3 linked regions of the Homo sapiens genome follow. The protein of the gene in region 2 purifies or fractionates together with the protein of the main gene of each other region. This does not show direct contact. Each region holds a gene or a part of one and is shown on either strand. Other genes may lie near its edges.

Evidence for each region.
Region 1: the proteins of ARL15 (region 2) and IREB2 purify together in Homo sapiens (co-immunoprecipitation; 3 studies listed by BioGRID and IntAct, with this or other methods). This does not show direct contact.
Region 3: the proteins of ARL15 (region 2) and CNNM1 purify together in Homo sapiens (co-immunoprecipitation; 3 studies listed by BioGRID and IntAct, with this or other methods). This does not show direct contact.

What each region holds. Positions count from the first base shown.
Region 1 is NC_000015.10:78,490,216-78,497,255, reverse strand, and holds part of IREB2 (iron-responsive element-binding protein 2), read right to left. Parts: intron 6,835-7,040; coding exon 6,730-6,834; intron 6,638-6,729; coding exon 6,495-6,637; intron 3,348-6,494; coding exon 3,200-3,347; intron 3,115-3,199; coding exon 2,992-3,114; intron 131-2,991; coding exon 1-130. UniProt on the Homo sapiens protein: RNA-binding protein that binds to iron-responsive elements (IRES), which are stem-loop structures found in the 5'-UTR of ferritin, and delta aminolevulinic acid synthase mRNAs, and in the 3'-UTR of transferrin receptor mRNA.
Region 2 is NC_000005.10:54,111,568-54,118,607, reverse strand, and holds part of ARL15 (ADP-ribosylation factor-like protein 15), read left to right. Parts: intron 1-5,197; coding exon 5,198-5,406; coding exon of another isoform or gene 5,407-5,493; exon of another isoform or gene 5,494-7,040.
Region 3 is NC_000010.11:99,360,356-99,367,395, reverse strand, and holds part of CNNM1 (metal transporter CNNM1), read right to left. Parts: intron 6,562-7,040; coding exon 6,421-6,561; intron 5,170-6,420; coding exon 5,000-5,169; intron 2,980-4,999; coding exon 2,880-2,979; intron 2,442-2,879; coding exon 2,394-2,441; intron 1-2,393. UniProt on the Homo sapiens protein: Probable metal transporter.

The DNA of each region.
Region 1 (7,040 bases), on a different chromosome or scaffold from region 2:
TTTCTCTACCGGAGAGGCCCAAGGAATCTGCATTTTCTCCTGGAAGGAACTGAAGTGGAGCTATGCCAATTCCAATCAAATGATCTTTGTGTATTTTTTCATAACTTTCGGCCAAAACAGCTTTCACACCCTGTAATAAATGTGCATTTTATTCCCTCTAATCACTTCTGAAAGTTATTTATTGAGCATTTAAAGGGGGCAAAAATCTACTTTGGCCTTTCTCTAAATACTTTTAGTCTAATATCTCATACTGAATCAATATTTTATCAAAGTATTTACAGAACCTTCTTACAGATTATTTTTCTGAATTTTTATGGAGCTCTCTAAATTATTCGGATCCCTTTCTGCTGCTCTAGGGTTAAGTACTGCCGCTGCCTACCACATCATAAGAGCTCTATAAATGGGCCGGCTCCCTTGACCCCAAAGTAGGGCTCAGAAGGATTTCTATTTAAACATGCCAGATCTAACATATGTTTTCAACACTCTTGAAATGCCACTAAAATAAAGGAATAAAGAAGGTATATAGGGCCAGGCGCAGTGGCTTATATGCTTATAATCCCAGTACTTTGGAGGCTGAGGCAGAAGGATTATTTGAGGCCGGGAGTTTGAGACCAGCCTGGGCAATATAGTGAGACCCTGTCTCTACAAAACATAAAAATAAAAAATACAATAAAAAGTAACAAGAATAGGCTGGATGCAGTGGCTCACACCTGTAATGCCAGCACTATGGGAGGCCGAGGTGGGCAGATCACTTGAAGCCAGGAGTTTGAGACCAGCCTGGCCAACATGGTGAAACTCCATCTCTATCTAAAAACAGAAAAATTAGCTGGACATGGTGGTGCACACCTGTAATCTCAGCTACTATGGAGGCTGAGGCAGGAGAGTCACTTGAGGTTGTAAGTGGAGGTTGCAGGGAGCTGAGATCATGCCACTGCATTCCAGCCTGGACGACAGAGTGAGACCCTGTCTCCAAAAAATACAAATAAGTAACAACAATAATGAAGAGGGTATAAGCCCACAGCAACAAAGGGAATAGGATGAGAGAATTCTATGAATATTTAGAAAACAGAGATAGGTAAGTGATTTAGAAGACAATGCTGAAACCGCAGAATGATAAAATGAAATTAGAGAGTGATACCAGTAAGGTCTGAGTTAATGTGCAACACAAGACCCAGGAAAAGGATTGAGATTCAGAGGCATGAGGTTCTCAGAATACTCGTGGACACAGGTTACAAGGCCATACAAAGCAGTAAGATCCAGCTCAATCCCCACTCCACAAGAGTAGAGGTTTATTCTCTGGAAAAAATGAGCCAAAGGCTCTAGACTTGTGTTTTTCAACTTTTTTCTCCACTGTCTACCTAAGGAGTCTTTTAAGACTTTTTTCCCCCAAATTGTGTCTTCCTGTTCACCTCCCTTCTCTCCAAAATTTTAGTACCACAAAGATGCTGTGTATCTTTTAATGTACTCTTATCTGTACTTTATGTGCAAAAAGTAGAATTTTTTTTACCACCTGAGGACCAATTTTTGTTCTTTTTTACTCATTTTTTACAAATTTTTACTCATTTTTTGTTATAGCAGAAATAAGGAAGAGAATACATTCTCTAAACTGACAAACACTGGGCACAGGGGCTTGAGAATACCAGATTGAAAACAGGGGACTAAGTAGATGTCTACATACTGAACGAGTCTCTTTCCTTCAAGAAACTGAATGGCCTCAGAGAAAATACAGATAATGACATATAGAATCGCTTAATGAAAAAGGTAGCTTATCACCCAGTCACCTATAGTAAGGCCCAGTAACTGACACAACCCAGCCCCCATCCATGGCTTGTAATCAGTTTTTTAATGTCTAACAAATGGAGGGCCAAGCATCACCTGCCATATAAGGAAAGCTTCCAACATCAAAAACAAACACTAAAACAATTTCCAGGATAAAAATAACCTATACCTATCATTAATACTCATAATAATACTTATAATTAGTATCTTAGAAGGATGAGATTTTGTTTTATTCCCACAGCCCCTCAGAGTATTTACATTTTAAAGGAGATATTAAAGATTAAAATAAGAATGAGGCCTGCATGGTATCTGTGTTTCAGCCAGCCTTTTTACAGCTACAATTGTAAAGAGAAGCATCTGTGAGTATGAAATGGCAAAAAGCACATGTCACATGACTATTCCCCCCCAGCAGATGGCCTATTTGCTCTGCAACAAGGAAACAGTCTCAGGAGAAATGTCCTCCTGGCAGACAGCCAGGCACCACAATCTCCTATTTAGGGGGAAAAAAGGTGCAACTTGGCCTACTACTTCTGAGTCTTTTACCCACTGATGGGGCAAATCGGAGAAAATTAAATCAAAAGGAGGCAAGTAAAATTAACAGTGGGGGCCGGGCACATGGCTCAAGCCTGTAATCCCAGCACCCTGGGAGGCCACAGCGGGAGGATCACTTGAGCCCAGGAGTTCAAGATCAGCCTGAGCAAAATAGAGAGATCCGATCTCTACAAACAATACAAAAATTGGCCAGGTGTGGTAACTCATGGCGTAGTCCCAGCTACTTGGGAGGCTGAGGCAGGAGAACTGATTGCACCTGGGAGGTCATGGCTGCAGCAAGCAGTGATTGCGCCACTGCACTCCAGTCTGGGTGACAAGGACATGGTCTCAAAACTAAAAAACCAAAAAAAATGATCAATAGGTATAAATAATTATAAAACAATAGTTTAAAACAGAATTTCCTTTCCCTCTATTATACTGACTTCTTCACATAAGACTGATGTAGGTTTTACCAAACTCAGAGTATTAAAATGATACTAACTAGATGAGTACAAAATATTACCAAAGATCACTGAAATAAACAAACAAACAAAACCCTCTATACCTATAAGGTTCAAATAACTATAAAAAATCCAGATAAACTTTGACAGGATGTTACTGACAAAAGGGAACAGTTAAAACTCTTTGAAGCTTAAGATGATAAATTTTAAGATTCAATACCAGTAAATACGGTCCTTTGGCAGCCCAGTCTCTGGAGTTTCCTGAACCATATTTCTTTCCTGCTAAAATAATCAGTGGGATACCTTCTTTCTGGTACAGCTCTGCAGCCTCAAATACATCTAGCTGTAGATTAAAACAAACACAAAATTTTTTAATACAAATTTTGATCCAGTTATAAATTGTCTAAATACTTTGTTTGCATTCTCACCGTCTGTCCTGATGGAAAATGAATTGTTTTAGGAGCTGGTTTTCCAATAAACTTATTAAAAAGCTTGATATTTGCAAAAGTGCCTCTTGTCATTACAGCATCATTACCTCTTCGAGCTCCGTAAGAGTTGAATTCACGAGGGGTAAGGCTACAAGAAAGTAATGAAAGTCAGTTTTCATTACATGTGGAAAATAATCACATACTATTGAGCTGTAAGACCTATTGAAAAATTTTTTTATCACAGAAAATTTCAAACACAAAAGAAAACAAAACCATGAATGTCCATGCGCCTATCACCAAGCTATAACTTAACAGATGCTCCGTTTCTTCTACAGTCAACCCCATTAGATTATTTTGAAGCAAAACTGAGATAATTTTAACAGCATACTTTTCAGTACATTTCACTAAAAGATGTAGACTCTTAAAAAAAAATCTTTACACCAAAAAAAAAAAATCACAATAATTTCTTAACATCAGATAGTCAATATTGTCACTGATTATTTCCAAACTAAGTTGGTTTGTTCAAATCAGGATCCAAATGCAGTTCATAAATGTGTTCAGTTGATCTCAAGTGTTTTAATCTACAGTTGACCTTTAAACATGAATTTGAGTTGTGTGGGTCCACTTATACATCGATTTTTTTTCAACCAAACACTGACAGAAAATATATTATTCACAGGATGCAGAAAACTGCAAATACGACTTTTCATATATGTGGCTTCTGCAAGGCTGACTGTAGGAATTCAGTATGTGTGGATTTGGGTATACATGGGTGGTCCTGGAACCAGTCCCACATCTATACTGAAGAATGACAGTATATGTTCCCTCTCCTTCCTCCTGCTTGTGCTCTATCTGATGCAATAAAGTTACTTGTATAGTTTTCTGTACCCACATTGTGTTGACTGCATCTCCATGAATCATTTAACATGTTCTTCTGCCTTCTGTTCTTGTAAATCACATGTCAGATCCAGTGGTTTGATAAGATTTGGGTTTTTAATTTTTGGCAACAATGCTTCATAGGTCATATGTACTTCTATTAGGAGGCACAAGATAGCCAACTGTCTTTTCCTGGAATGTTACCAGTGATTGCTCATTGTGGTCTAGATTGCTTATTAGAGACCGTAAAATAGTGATACTATAATTCACCCATTCCTTCTTCATTTTTTAGGTACAAAAGTTCTATAAAGAAAAACTTTCCAGCAGGTATGTTGGCTCTTGCCTGCAATACCAGCACTCTGGGAGGCCAAAGTGGGAGGAATGCTCGAGCCCATGTGTTGGAGACCAGCCTGTGCAACAAAGGGAGATCTCATCTCTACAAAAAATTAAAAATTATCCAGGCATGACGGTGCGAGCCTGTAGTCCCAAGCTACTCAGGAGGGTGAGACAGGAGGAGTGCTTGAGCCCACGAGTTCCAAGCAGCAGAGGGCCAAGTGCCACTGCCTTTCAGCCCAGGCAAGAGTGAGACCCTGTCTCTAAAAACAAACAAACAAACAAATGACAAACTTTCCTTCATCAATGATTTGGTTATGCTGAAATACATTCCATACATGAAAGGCTGGTTAAAGAATTGATTATTTACCAGTTTTCAAGCTAATGAGCTGGTCCTGACCCTGAGACCTTTAGACAGAAGCCTGATGGTCTGTGACCATCAGGTAATCTTTGTAATTTTATTTTTGGTAATCTTGGTAATTTTTGGTAAAATTGTGTACATTTTCCAGTCCCAGATCTGGAATCAATAATTTCTCCATGAAGCACTGGTTCACTATAGTGGGAAACAGTATTTAGAAATCATAATCTGGGTGCGGGGGGTATTGCTACTGGATTAGTGACCATATATAACTTTTTAGGGAAAAATAACTGAACATAAGTATCTCAACAATCAACAACTGACTTTTATCAGCCTCTGATTTGGTCTTTTATGCAGAGGCAACAATATTCTAAATTTGTGCATTTAAATTTTTACTTCAGGATGGGAGTGGTAGGAGGTTTGAGTGTCTTTATTTTTAGAAAATTCTAATTGATGAGCACTACTGGATTAAATGTGCTAAGAAATACATATCAGGAGGCATAATAATTACAAAAATTGTACATTTGAGAGAAGTGTTGACTGTTTTTCTTTTTTGGAGGTATGTCACAATTATGATGAAGATGGAAATCACAACCAAAAAAATATTTACAGGAAAGGAAACTTATTTCTCACCACTTTATAATAAAAGCTGTGCAATATTATCACATGTCAACACAAGCTACATTGACATTTTGGCTGGGCACGGTTGCTCATGCCTGTAATCCCAGCAATTTGGGGGGCCGAGGTGGGCGGATCACTTGGTCAGGAGTTTGATACCAGCCTGACCAACATGGTGAAACCCTGTCTCTACTAAAAATATAAAAACTTGCTGGGCATGGTGGCGCGTGCCTGTAATCCCAGCTAGTTGGGAGGCTGAGGTAGGAGAATTGCTTGAACCCGGGATGCAGAGGTGGCAGTGAGCTGAGATCACACCACTGCACTCCAGCCTGGGTGACAGAGTGAGTCTGTCTCAAAAATAAATACATAAATAAATACATACATAAATAAATAAATTTCAATGAAAAAGCTTGTCATTTTAATTACTCAAGCATCAAACAAGCATCCAATAAGCTAATCAGGTAGCAGTACTACAAATCCTGCTTTTAACAAAACTTTGTCTCTATTGTCAAAACAGTCCTTTGATAACAGGGCAACTCTACATGATTAATCATGTAGAAATGAAATCTTACCAGTTTTAAATTTATATCTCCAATATAAATGGCCTTTACGTTTATTGTTCCTATAAAATTTTAGGCTCATGAAGCAGAAATTCATTGTCTTTTGATTTGTACATATCATTCCCAGCCTCACACACGTACATGTTATAGCCCATAAAATACACATTTAAATTCCTTACTCCAATAATGGGAAGCTGGTTTTAACCAAATGAGCAGGCTTCATTTGGTAGGTAAAACCAAGCTGACTTTTCAATAAAGTAGCACTGAAAAAGAAAAATCTTATTTCCAATCAGCTGTTTATTTAGACTATAAGGGCTCAATTTAAAATTGCAATTTCATTTTCTAAAGTCACAAGCAAAGACAAGTACAGAAGGTACCCCCCGCCTCCCCACCCCGCCACTCTCCATTCTTGCTTAAGACAAACACATTGGCAGTCAGATTACCTACGATAGCATGTATTTACTGGAAAAAAGGAACAAGACCAATAGAAGCCTCTTAATCAGTAAGAAACAAGAAAAAACAAAAACACTCTAAAGCCATGTACACATACCCTCTGTTTGTCAAATACTTAGCGGCAGCACTATTCCTAGCGATACTTCCTGCAGGTGATATATGATCTGTTGTGACAGAGTCTCCCAAATATAATAAGACATGGGCATTTTCAATAGCCTGGAGTGCAATTGGCTCTTTGGTCTAGAAGGTAAAAGTTCAAGGCATTTAACTCTTTACAAGACTTCTTAGTTTATAACAATCTTTAAAAGATCAAATAGTAAAACAGTACTTACAAGTTTATCAAAAAATGAAGGGCATCTGATATAAGTAGACTTTAAGTCCCATGGAAACAAAACTGAATCCGGTGCTTCTAAGGAATTCCACCGTTTATTCCCCATCTGTGAATACAGTTTTCGTTGATGAACCAAAGCAAAGATAAAAGGACTCAGAAAAAGAGGCGCATGAAAATGATCAAGGGAATAAAATAGTACTTAGGTCACAACAACAACAACAAAAATAGGCCTTATCCATTTGGAAAGAAAATTAAGAGTGTATTCTTTTCTTTTTTTTAAAAAATTTTAAATTTTTATTTTTGCCCAGGCTG
Region 2 (7,040 bases):
ATTCCCGCTAGAAACTAGCTCTAAATTTATGCCTAAATTTCAGTAGATCTTAAATGTCTTTTTCTCACATTAAAGACAATGAGTATCCATATGTGCCATGTCAGAAATTAAAGCCATGTTAAAAATTTTTATAAAAGAATAATAAGCTCATAACATGTTAATATAAATAACATTTTTAATGAAAATCAACAATTTTGAAAACAAAAAAATAGTGAGAAAATTGGCAAATCTTTTTAATCTGGTTTAATAGAAGAGGGCCGGATGCTCATATCTGCTTCTACAGTTAATCTGTTGTTAATATGTTGTTTGGGTTGAAGTATATGAAGAAAGTCTAGTCTCACATAGATAACTCAAAAAGGGAGGCATGATTTAATAACCTTTTTAAGTAACTGTTGATTGTCTTCTTTGATACTATACTGAAATTCTTCAACAGGTGGTTGTTTCTTAATCAGTTGTAGTGTGGAATCTGGAAAACTTATCAGGGAACTTTTTGTACTCAGTTAATTAACTTGCATTGGTCTTTCTTGTACTTTGAATGTATTTTTTTATCTATGCATGGTTTTGTAACATCATGCATTCGTCATTTGGAAAATATTGGTTCACTGAGTAGTGTAGAGCTTCCAAATGTTTACAGATTACTTTATGAATATCTGTCTATTAATATCACCACCAATCTCATCACTGAAAAGCTGTCAGGCTCACTTAAAACTTAGCAGAAATAAGTTTTCTAAAATTCTAGCTTTTGCTTGAAAACAAATTTTACCATTGACAACAAATACTATCATTTGTTTTCCTTGAAATGACAAGCTTGCACATCTATTTTTGAGAAAATGTCTATCAAACAGTCAAATCTGAATAATCATAGTTTGTCAGTTGAAATTTCAAGTAAAAATGGAGTTGTGTGAAGTAGCTTACAACTCAAACAGTTGTACAAGTGCTTATTGTCAAATCAACTGTCTACTTTGGTATGTAGCAAAAATGTATTTTGCTTACTTCCCATTTAGTCACATAGAATATTTTAAAAGTGTGTTTAAGAGCTAAGTTAATAAAATAATAACTTTTACTGCCGTATTAAGGGAATTCTTGGGTGAAACTGTAGCAGGAGATTAAAGAAAAGGATCTTTTCACTATTAATATATTATTCATACATTATGTCATATAAGGGACATTTTTTAAAGTTATGGTATTTCTCTTTGGGTTTGTGTGTGTGTGTGTGTGTGTGTGTGTGTGTGTGTGTATGTGTCTCACTATTTGCAGGTACCATATGTACTCCTAAATGTGGCCAATGAAAACATAGTTTCTCATTGAAAGAGTTGACTGCACAAGTTGAATTTCCAGGTGTCCTGTGTGTTTCCAAGGGACAAGCTCTAGTAAAACATGCAACCAAATTCTCTTTATACCTGACTCACTGGACACCATCTAATGTGTGGATGTATTTGCTCTGCCTGCTATATTTGCAGGCCTCATTGTAATTTGTATTACTTTACAGGATTTGATGGTTTCAGTTAAGAGGAATAATGGCTTTCTAAATATCTCTTTAGGTCCTAGCTCAGAGACTTGTATGGATGGAATAGGTACTTAATAACTATCCATTGAATTAACCAGTTGGGAAATGTTTTTGGACATATTTCCATTAATGTATGTGGGCATTAACTTACCTTTTGTTCCAATAGGGTTCCATTTCTTTTCTCCTAGCTTATGTGGTAATATAGTTCTTTATTTAGCCTCATTGCCTTTTTAGTCCATGATCTCTATTTCAATCACATTAGACCTAAATATATTTATTAGGTGTGTAACCTTGGGCAAGTTACATAATCGTTTTGTGTTTTGGTTTCCTTGTTGATAAAATGAGATTGATAACAGTATTTACCTCATGATAGTCATTAGACTGTCATGGGTAAGTGATTTAATATACGTAAAACACTTTGAGCAGCCACCATTCATGTCAGAACTACACTAGTTTGTCAATTGCAGCCATTAGTTGGCTGTGGATAGAAACTCAATGAAAGCATTCTGTGGGCATTAGTTGGCTATGTGGAATTTACAATAAAGCATGCTGCATTGAGTCTTACAATGAAAACTGTGCACTGCACATCCTTCATGTTAGTGAAATTTATAACAAGCTAGTGTACAGATACACATGCACACTATTTTTGTTGTTTTAAACACTTACCACCGAGTAACACTGCCTCCAGTTTTGTCCCTCCAGCTTATGGATGGTTCTCAAGCATATGGATAGTGTCTGGATGTAGCCTGTAGCAGATGCTGTTGGTATCCTACCCAGATCTCCTTTCCTGGGCCAGTGCATCCATCTCCCAGCTGCTGTGGGTATTGGCTGCTAATGACTCACACCTGTACTCTTCTCCAGAGGCCTGCCCTTGGCTGACAGTAATTGCCCCAACCAAATATGTTTGGGAGATTATGAGATCATGCCCCAACCCCCTCCTGCTCCCCAGGGATGGCTAATGACTATACAAGGGTGTAATAGCTCAGCTCCCTTGCCTTTGGACTAGACAACTTCTGTGGTTCAATCCATGCTTTAGAGTTCCTTATCGCATCAAGCTGAGGCTAGATTTCTGAAACAATATCTTTGCCTAGCTTCTTCCCCCATTCTAGCTTACTTCTTTCACTTCTAGTTTCTCCTGACAGCACTCCCTCTAAATCGGGTGTACAAGAAATGATGTCTCAGGCTCTGTGTCTAGGGAACCGGACCTAAGATGTTGCTTATCTCAGTACCCCTGCTGTTTCCTTAGTTCCACCACCACCTAAGTAATGAATTCCCTATATTAAATAATCTCTGGCTTAAATTTCCTCTTTATTTTTGTTTTGTTTTCTTAGTTGGACCCTGCTTGATATGCATCAACCCTGCTCATATCCCATGTCTTCACATACTTAACATTACTCAACATCAAATGTCCTTGATCCTCTTATTAAATATATACCTAGTTATTTTTGTATAGTATAATGGTGAAATCACAGATTTTAGGACCTGAAAATTAGTTTCAAAGGCTTAGTCAATTATACTTCCCTCCTTAGATTGTTGTAAGAATTGTATGAGCTTTTCTTTTTAAAACACTTAGTACCTGGAGGATAGGAAGTGTTTAATAAATGGGAGCTGTTTGGCTACTGATATTATTCTTTCAAGAAATTTACCCCCACCGCCCCAAGCACCATGGTATGTGCCTTTAGTCCCAGCTACCCAAGAGGCTGATGCAGGAGAATCACTTGAGTCTTGAGTCCAGCCTAGGCAACATAGCGAGAACCCATCTCAAATTTAAAAAATGAAATTAAAAAAGAATTGCCCCACTTTGGATGAAATGCCTATCTCTTGATCCCAGAGGACCTAATGAGTATCTCTATGACAGCACTTTCTTGTACTCTATTATAATCTTTGAGTTTTCTTTTCTATTTCTCCCAGAAAATATAAGCTGCTCAGTGTCATCAGTGGTGTGTTGGCTCTCTGGGAGATGAAAGGACTCGATATGTAGGATTTGCTGATTTCCATAGTGACAGTGCTTTCACCCTGATTGATTTCAAGCTACCAACAGGATGTCACTGAGCACAGAGTTGGGAAGAGAAGCAAACAGGTGACCCTTGCCAGCCAGGGCACACCAACTGCAGTCCCCACTGTTTCCCTAACACATAACAATATGTCAAACATAGGAGCTAGATGTTCAGTGGATGACTGAAATACAGTTATTAACTGGTTAGGACTTGATCATATGCAATAAATTGGTGAAATTCCTTGAAATCTAATTGTCGTTATATAACCAGTAGCACCCCTTTCCTACACATGCACACATATTGCCCCTCCTATTCTTGAATGAAAGTGATGAAAACAGTCACCATGATGTAATGGGAAGTGCCTATGCCTTCCCTGGGCAGGTTGTCTGCTAACTCATGCAAATCCCAATTTTGTGATTTATTAGATACATGACAAGGGATCACTTACTTTACCTCTGTCTGCCTCAGTTTCCTCAGAGAGTTGGACTAAATCATCTCTAGAGTTTGTTCTAGTCTCAAATTTGTAAAGCTTAATTAGTATATAATTTTACTCCCTCATTCCCTCAATTTTCATTATTCCAGTACTGAACTTTGAGTTAGATGTTGTGCTATATAATGGAAATACAAAGAGGAATACTACATGACATGCCTTGGCTGATGAGACTCTCCATGTGGTGTTGCTTTTTTTTTTTTTTTTCTTGAGATGGAGCCTTGCTGTGTTGCCCAGGCTGGAGTGCAGTGGCGCGATCTTGGCTCACTGCAACCTCCACCTCCCGGGTTCAAGCGATCCTCCTGCCTCAGCCTTAGCTTCCCAAGTAGCTGGGATTACAGGCACCCGCCGCCACGCCCGGCTAATTTTTGTATTTTTAGTAGAGATGGGGTTTCACCATGTTGGCCAGGCTGGTCTTGAACTCCTGACCTCAGGTGATTCACCTGCCTTGGCCTCCAAAAGTACTGAGATTACAGGTGTGAACCACCGCGCCCAGCCTCTCCATATGTTTGTTTGTTTGTTTATTTGTTTGTTTTAATAAACATCTTATCTCATTGAGATCATAAGTGTACACCTGTTGTCTGTTATTTTTCCTCATGGGTTATGAAGCCAAACAGAATCATGTAATTGTATCAAAGGCCATGATTTTAGTTTTTCACAAACTTTAGCACTTTGACACATAAAGCTATTGTGCTAATAACTCCCTAGGTGAAATTAAACAAGGCTGTCCTGATCAGCAAGCAGTTCTGTTAAAAAAGTATCACCAAGCTAATGTTAATGGTTTGGAAAGAAGCGTTGGTGGATGTCTAGGCCATGCAGCTCTCTGAGGCAGGTTCAGTCTCAATTTTTAGAGAGTGTGTAGTTCATTTGAGATGATTAAAGTCTGAAAATATCCTTTTGAGTTTAAGTCTAGGAAGTATTTATCCTGGTTCTCTCACACACATTTTTATATAAAAGTCATTAAGAATGGCTTGGATTTTGTGTCTTCCTTCAAGGCCAAATCTACCTATTGGCTCTACTGCCTTCTTTGTTCCCATCCACTGTGATTTCTGCCTTTTCTAAATTCCTGTTTTAATCCATACCACAGAGTTTAGCACTTAATTTTTAAAAGGTACATTGGTTTCCAGTAGGAATTACTGTTGGGAACATTTTTCAGTTGCTGAAAGCTCTTTTTAAAACGAAAATTTGTTTTGTTTTTGACAGGGGCTGATAACATCCGGAAATACTGGAGCCGCTACTACCAAGGATCTCAAGGGGTAATATTTGTATTAGACAGTGCCTCTTCAGAGGATGATTTAGAAGCTGCTAGAAATGAGCTGCACTCAGCTCTTCAGCATCCACAGTTATGCACTTTACCCTTTTTAATATTGGCCAATCATCAAGACAAGCCAGCAGCTCGCTCAGTACAAGAGGTATGTCTCATTAGCATGACAACTCTTTGTCTTCCTTGCTTGTACTTTTGCTGCCACGTTGGAACCTGGAAAAATGCATGTAATTAGGAATGTGCTGGTTATGCTGCTTTCAACATGAAACCTTAGTTTTCATAGGAAGCAGAAAGCCTATATCAATCTGTTAGCACTTGTTTACATACCTAACCCTACTTGGAGAGCACAGAGTTTTCTAGCTATTTAGCAATGGTTAAAAGATGTTTCTGGTTATATTTTTCATCTATTTTGAGGGGCTAAAGGCCTGGTTATTTAATGTTGTTTTAACCTGTGGACTTAGTTCATTCTCTTCTTCAGCTTTTCTAGGAACATATCGTGAGTATTTCCATGCATTACTCGCCTTCAGGTGTCATGTTCTTGTTCCTCTGAAGTGTTCAATGTTGACTAGGATTAATGGATCCTATTCTGTAATCTGCTAGGCTGAAAATTGATGTCTTGCAAATTCCATGCCATCAAATACATTTTAACATGGAACCAATGTTTATCTTCCTCATTTAATTTTATTTCTTAGCTTGTATCTCTCCTATAAAAGCATGAGACTAATTCTAGGCAAATAGAGTCTCAGCCAATAGAGCTTGTGATTCATGGTACTGCAGTAATGAGATATGTGAATAGTTTTTAAAACTTAAATTATAGTGAATTATAACGTAAGTACAGTGAAATCAAAACTCCTGATGTATTCCTTTATACTTGTAACTTTCAGGATATGATTTCCCCTCTCCTTCAGAAAATTGCATGCTTCCTCAAGTGATTTTGGAATGAGATGATTAATATGAACAATCTTGCCTTTCAGCCTGAAAAATAAATGAGGAGCCAAGGACATAACATGTTCTAACTCCAGACCTCCCTCACACTTAGTGTGTGACCCACGGCAGATAGCCTATTCTTGTGCCTGGCTTCTCACCTCTAAAATGAGAATAATCCAATTTATTATGATAAGTTAATAGGATTAATTTGGATAATTTACTTTGAAGTTTAAACACCTAAGTAGAAGAACCATATAAATAGAGTTTTTATTCAAATTTTAGAAACACAGTTTAAAAAAAAGAAAGGCAAGGACCCATTATTCAACAGACAGAGCTCATGTCTCACTTTAGTTGCCTCATTCAGCATTAAGTACGTAGCACCTTTTAAAGAATAGAGTTTGAAAAATACCTTATAGATAATATTAAGTAATTAAGTAAAAAACAGCAATAAAAATCTATTCAGAAAGTCATTAATGTGAAGATCTTCAGCATTATAATGATGGTGTCTCCTAATGTGCTTTTAAGACCTTAGTTTGTAAATCTTTTAACTTCTCAGCATCAGTTTTTCTGCCTATAGAGTAGATATAATAGTATGTAATGAAGGGTAGTTTATGATTATAAGGTCGTTTGCTGAGAATGCATTGTTATTCAGCTATTCATTCTAAAAAATCTTGTAATATGTATGTGTACACTACTACATGTAGACAGTATAATGTGTGTATGTAATATATACATAATACATATACACATTGATAAAACATAGATATAAGTGCCATTTTAACTTCAGATAACTTTATTCAAGTTATTTGCAATATCTGAAAAAAGATTTTTTCTTTCTGCTTTTAAAGTTATGAA
Region 3 (7,040 bases), on a different chromosome or scaffold from region 2:
ATGCAGGAAAGCCAGAGACTTCTTTGTAGCCTCAAGTTCAACTTTGAAGCATAGGTCATCGTGCCAGTATTCCAGCAAACTCATAATCTCACTCCTCATCCTCAAAGGCTGATTAAGCTAGCTTCAAGCATAGGGGGACGGGGCTGGGCCAAGACCCTACAAGATTTTATTGCCTTTTAGCTTAGACTTAAGCTCTCCCTCAACCTATAGGTTGAGGTTCTTGGCCAGTGAAAGATGCTGGGTGGCTGGACCATGGGCTGAGCATTCACCCGGGATAACTGTGGGGTATGGCTGGCCTTTGCAGTTACTTCACACTTCACTACACTAAGTATGGGTTCGGGGAGGATGGAAAATGTCTTTTTACCCCATTGGCTAATAATATTTCTTTTTCCTTCTGAAGATTTACAGAGATGCTCAGTAACATGGGGAGAGAAAGAGAAAGAGTGCTATGTTTCTTTTCAGTTAACTAGTTTTAAAGGAGAAATCAATGTTGCAACTTTATTTCTATCTCACTGATGCAACTGAAAGCTTTTGAAAGAAAGAACTAGAAACAGGAAGGAAGGAAAGGAAGAAATCAGATAACATCTTCCTTCTACTTAAAACAATTTTTTTTTTGAGATGGAATCTTGCTCTGTAGCCAGGCTGGAGTACGGTGGCATGATCTTGGCTCACTGCAACCTCCACCTCCCAAGTTCAAGTGATTCACCTGCCTCAGCCTCCCTAGTAGCTGGGATCAAAGGCACGTGCTACCATGCCTGGCTAATTTTTGTATTTTTAGTAGAGACAAGGTTTCACCATGTTGGCCAGGATGGTCTCGATCTCCTGACCATGTGATCCACCCGTCCTGGCCTCCCAAAGTGCTGGGATTACAGGTGAGAGCCACCATGCCCGGCCACAGCAATTTCTTTTTTTTTTTTTTTAAGAAAGAAGGTCATATAAATTGGGTGGGCTAGGAAGCCATATGTAGGTCTTTTTTTCTCAGAATTTCCACCTCTTTTAGTCTTCTGGAAGAGATCACAGACATTTCTAGGTAACATATTAGAATCCCAGGAGTAGTCCCTAATGTGATGGATGATGGAGATTTCCTTTAGAGAACTAAGGTTTGCCAAAGTCCTGTAGCCCGTCCCTCACCCATCCAGAGTTCTACTGAACACTAATGCTTCCTTCATCAACCTTGATTGAGATTCATTGTCTTAAGTATAATAATGTACCAGGGTCTTTTCAATTTTACAGATCTCCTCCAACTCAAGTTCTGCCACTCTTCACACTGGGCAGGTACTTCATTTCAACCACTGGCTGGGCTATTACACTGTAACAATTACACTGTAAATTGTTCCACTATTTCCACTTAGAAATTGCATTCCAGAATATGATGGATCTGAAATCTGTATTTTATTGTGCTGTGTGAACTAGCCAGGACACCAGGAAGCATCTTGGCCGGTCACCAACTTACTGGGTGATTTGAAGCAAGTCATTTCCTTAGTTTCACTCATGTTAAAATGGTATCTACCTTGCCATGTTCCAGGGACTATGATATCAAGCTCTGGGACCCTCTGATAATTCCCACCACAAGGCAATATGTAAAATCTTTTTTTATGATGAGAGGAAAGACCCTATTTGGCATTGAAGTGGTCACTGTAAACACTAACAGCTGAAAGCAATGCAAAATTCAGAACTGTGAATCAGAAAGAAATCTAGAGAAATAATTCTTTCTGTATCACACTTTTAATCACAAAAAATGCCATGCCCTTTAAGCACAAGTGCAATAACTACACAGAAAACAGCAAGAAGGCACAGCACAGAAAGGGCAGAGCAAACCAGCCATCAGCCCTGTGCCTGCCCCCCACCAACAGCATGCACAGCCAGCTGGCAGATACCTCTCCACTAGCTGAGAGGTGGAGAACCAAGAAAGAGAGGCAGATAAGCAACGTATTGCACAAAGGTGGAACTTACATCCCCAAATCTTGCAGTCACTTCTTACTGAGGACAAACCCCACAGACACAATAATAGCATATGACAGTGTTTGAGTAAAGGCCATGGGTGAATTGTTATTGCACAGAAGGAAGGGCTGAGCCTCTGCCCAAGCACACAAATCACCTGCCTGCATTCACTGGAAGGTGGCAATAAGCAGTGCCTTCCCTCACAACCCCTGCATCCCCCCAACCATGTGAGCAGAGAAGCAGCAGAAAACATTCCAGACACACAGAACCTAAGCTCCCATGGTCTGTGGGTACCTGGCAGGAAGCAGTGTTCCTGGCAGAACATTACAAAGGGGCTGCCAGCATTTGTCTTAGCCCCAGCCCAGGCTCAAAGTGCTCGGTCCAGGTCCCCAGAGCGGGCTGAGGCAGGACTACGATGGGGAGGACGAGGAAGGGGTTTGAGAGATACATACGAAAGACAGAAGATCCAGCCAGACTTCCAACCTTCCGCACGTCATTATCTAAGGACAGAAGCATGCAGTGGGTTTCAGAGGCAACTCAGAAAACACACTTCTTATGGGAATCTTCCCTCTTCTATCCACCCCCAGCACCAATTAACCCTGTAAAAACCAGGCAATTAAATGGAAGGGTAGGGAACAAGTATAAAAAGCAAAATAAACTTGTCTTTTCATACTGAAATCTACCACCCTAGATCCCTAACACTTGACAATATTACTGCTTTTTACAATTCAATTTTTTGTCACTTTTTTTTTAAGCACTAACTGAATGAAAAGTGATTCATACACCCATTTTGCAGAGGAAGGAACTAAAGCCAAGGAAGTTAAATGGCTTGTCCAGGCTGATTAACAAGAGTCAAAGGGGGAGTCAAGACTTGAACCCCTGTGCTTTTTCTACCATATCCCATTACTTTCCCAATAAACAAATGGAAACTAGAATACCTGAGCAAGCAGTGGTCATGATGGCTGGGACGCCATAGTAAGTAAAGGCTCCATTTTCAAAGCGAAGGCCTTCCTTACCAACCTCCACCTCCACTTTACCCTGGAAAAAAAAAAAAGGAAGTGTACTATGAATGTGTATGAGCACTTCCAGTTCTACTATTGACTCGAATCCTAAGCATTTCTGCTTGGATAACAAGTGGACTAGACCCATGTTCTTATCACAGAGGAATGTTAATTCTCTCCAGATTTACATGTGAGAAAGCACCACCAGCTTTAATAGCTCTTTGCAGTAAATTCAGTGCTTCGTTGTTCATAAAATAGCATCCAGTCATGAATAACCAAGCTGTCCTTGCATACTGTAGTGGCCCTTCCATGATGCAGGCCTAAGCACCAGCTAATCCAGGGCCTCATAAACTGCCCCACTGGTTTAGTCCAAGATTGGACCATTTCTAAGTCAGGTCAAGATAAAATCTAGGCCGAGTGCGGTGGCTCACACCTGTAATCCCAGCACTTTGGGAGGCCAAGGTGGGTGGATCACGAAGTCAGGAGTTTGAGACTAGCCTGGCCAATATGGTGAAACCCCATCTCTACTAAACATACAAAAATTAGCTGGGTGTGGTGGTGCATGCCTGTAGTCCTAGCTACTCAGGAGACTGAGGCAGGAGAATCACTTGAACCAGGGAGGCAGAGGTTGCAGTGAGCTGAGATCGGGCCACTGCACTCCAGCCTGGGTGACAGAGCGAGACTCTGTCTCAAAAAAAAAAAAAAAAAAAAAAGATAAAATCTAATTCTGTGTGAAGCTTGTTTAATTCATTGCCAATAATAGTGATAGCTGATATGTAATGCATAGCATGCATGGACATGACACTGTATTATGTGCACTGCATAGATTCTCATGCAATTAGCCCCACAACCCCATGAAGCCTATGCCATTTTTATCCCTGATTTACAGGGAACTCAATTTTGAGGCTCAGAGATTGAATAACTTGGTCCAGGTTAGTTAGGAAATGGCAACAATGGAATTTTAAAGCCATATTTTTCAAATTTCTGAGCGTACACTCTTGCTACTACATTTTATTCCATGTTTTATTTGAAAACCGTTAAGTTTATATTCAGCATAAGACATGAAACTATGTGATCATTACATTATACAAACAATGTAACAGGATTCTTGTTGATTTCCAACAGTGAAGCACATGACTACATTTTTTGGAGAAGAGAGGTCATTTTGTTCAGACCATTTGGAAAGATATATGTGAGGCAAGTTACAGTGACAGAGCAGAGAGGCTGGAAGTGGACAGTAACAAAGAGACCATTTCTAAGTTCATGTGAGCTTAATCAAGATTTTAAAATACAATCAGTGTATTTAGGATTCACAACATTATGTTGGGAAGGGACAGGGAATCAGTGACAGAGCTAATGGTGAAGCCAGACAGGGCACCAGCAGTGTTACAAGCTGCAATCATGTCAGACACTTATTTAAGACAGGCCTATTCAGGTATCCAGAGCAGAAGGTGATCATACTTATGTGAGCACTGGGGAGATGTTGCACTTCTTTGAACAGGTCATTTTCCCCCTTCCTGGTCCTCTGAAGGGGGAGAAGATTTCAGGAACTGCAAAGGCTGAAATGCAGCTGAGAGAATGAATGTGTCCCATGTACCTCCAGAGAGCAGAGCAAGGACCAGTATGGAAGTCACAGATGGTGAGATTTCCACTTGACAGAGAGAAGGGTTTAAAGAAGAGTTGTCTAAAGTTTAGGAGGCAGTGGGCAGTTTCATTTCAGGGGATGTTCAAGCAGAGATGAGGAGGTATTATAGCTTCCGCAGAGCAGCAGTTCTGGAAGTTTAGATGCAGAACCCCTCTATTGGAGAGGTATTCAACCCACCCCAAACATCGCTGAGTTGTCAAACTAAATGTCAAAGATCCCAGCACTCCCAGGACACCAGTCTTCCATGTCTAGGCCCCTCCTGTGGGTCATGAAGAAATGTCCACCCAGCTGGCCTTGTTGCTGAGGCAGCCAGCCAAGTCTTGGAACTTGGTGCTGACGGAGGCATGGCCATTTCTTCACCCTGGAGATGCCCTCCTCTGGCTCTCAGAGGTTCCCTGACTTTCCTACTCACCTGTAGAAGCAGCACAAAGTAGTCCACAGGGCGGTTGCGCTGGTAGAGGTAGTGTTCCGGGGCCTTCTTGTTCTTCTCATCAAACTTCAGCTCCTGGATCACGTTGGGATGTTTCAGGAGCCGGAGCAGGATCTTCTCCGAAAGGTACAGAGACTTAAAGGGCTCCACTTCTAGAGGAGAGTGAGTGGGAAGGGAGGAATCAGCATCAGCTGTGTCCCACCCATTCCAGCAGTGGCAGCTGGGAGGAGTCAGAGTGGGCACAACTGGGACCCCTGTGCCTGTACCTGGGCATCAGGTTGGCAGGGCTTCTGCAGTTCCTCCGGAGTGGAGGATCCTAATCCCAAGTGTGCATCTCAGGGCCTTACCCACGTCCTCTGGAGATGTGTGTCCCTGCACTGGCATCTCAGGAGAAACAGGTCTCCATTTGGAAATGTCTGTTTCATTATTAATTTTCTTTGATTTTATTTAAAATTGGACATGGACAACTAAGCCACATAAACAACAAAGACTTTAATGCTATAATTGAATGAAATGCAGATAATTTAATCTGGCTTATTTGTATGACATATATCTGCTGAATGAAATGAAATCCCATGTTACTAAAGACAGGCAATTATTTAAATAATAAGTTGTCAATAATGTGAGGCATCATTGCATCATATTTATATATTACAGCTATTGCTTATATTACATATGTTAAACTTATATTACTTATATAACATAGGCTCTGGGAAGTAGTTAAAAGAAATCTGTACTCAGAACTAGAAATTCTATCTTAAAGCAGCTCCAACTTAAAATTTTCTACTCTTTAGCACCTAAAACAGTGCTAGCACTCATTACATACTCAATAAATATATGTTGGATTAATTAAATATTGAAGTTAGTGATAGATATGATCATTCTAGGTCAGCACATTAATTAGGCATGGATGGTCAGAGGGTTCAAAGACAAACTTTATCTTCTTCACAAGAAGGAGTTTATCTTTGGATTTTCTCACTTTTTTTTCTTTCTAAAGATCCCAAGATTCACAATACACTTCTGTATTTTAAAAATTCATAGCTCACAGGCTTCTGTGGCACTGCTCTAGGGCACTGCAAGTCTAACAGACAGGGAGATGGCCTCGGGCTTCAGCGAGGAAGTGAGTAGAAGAGGGAAAAGTGCAGCAATGGTTTCTTTAGCTCTTTTCTCTGGTAGAAGAGTTGAGTTATACTCATTTCTTCCTCTATGAGATCAGGCCTGGGGCTCAATACGACAGTAGGTGGCATCCATTACCCTGTCTAAGGCAACCTCCTTCCTAGAACAGTGCTTCTCAGTCCTGACAGCACACTGGAATCAGGCTGGAAGGTATTAACAACGATTGGTGCCTGGGTCCCACCCTAGAGATTCTGTTTTAGCTTCTCTGGAGTGGAGACTTGTCCTACCTGTGGCCATGAAGCGGTGTGTGGCTAGCAGAAGCTGTGGTGAGATCTTCACCCGCATCTCCGTGTCCGAAAGCTTAAACAAGGAGAAGTCATGCCGCTTCCGCTCCCGTTGCGGGACCCTCTGCTTTTTCCGATTGTCAGCTGTGGGGTCACAGAGGACAGATTACAGCTATCTCAGAATCACGTTGATCTTTGGAGGTTTTCCCAGAATCACAGGGGACAGATAGAACATTTCTGCAGTGTCAACTATGGGTGACATCACAATATCACCCAGGAAGTAGAAGGATGTTGGTGAGGGATAGACAATGGGAGACTGCCATCATTTCAGTGTTTTCCACACTTAGGGGGTGTATAGTAGAAAAAGGGGAAAGCAGGCTTGGGGTACCCAAGTCTGGGGTTCTGGGGCTGGTTCCCCTACTTACCATGTAATCTCTCTAAGCATTAGAGTTTTTATTTTAATCTGTACAAGGAGGCTAATAATATTTAATATAGCTCTCATACTCATCTTGTGCAATTAATTATGAGACTCCAACTGGAAACTACCTGTGAGAATGCTTTTACCCAAAGTCATACACACACAAGGGACCTGCATTCTTAGTATCAAGAGGGTTGCAGGGGCC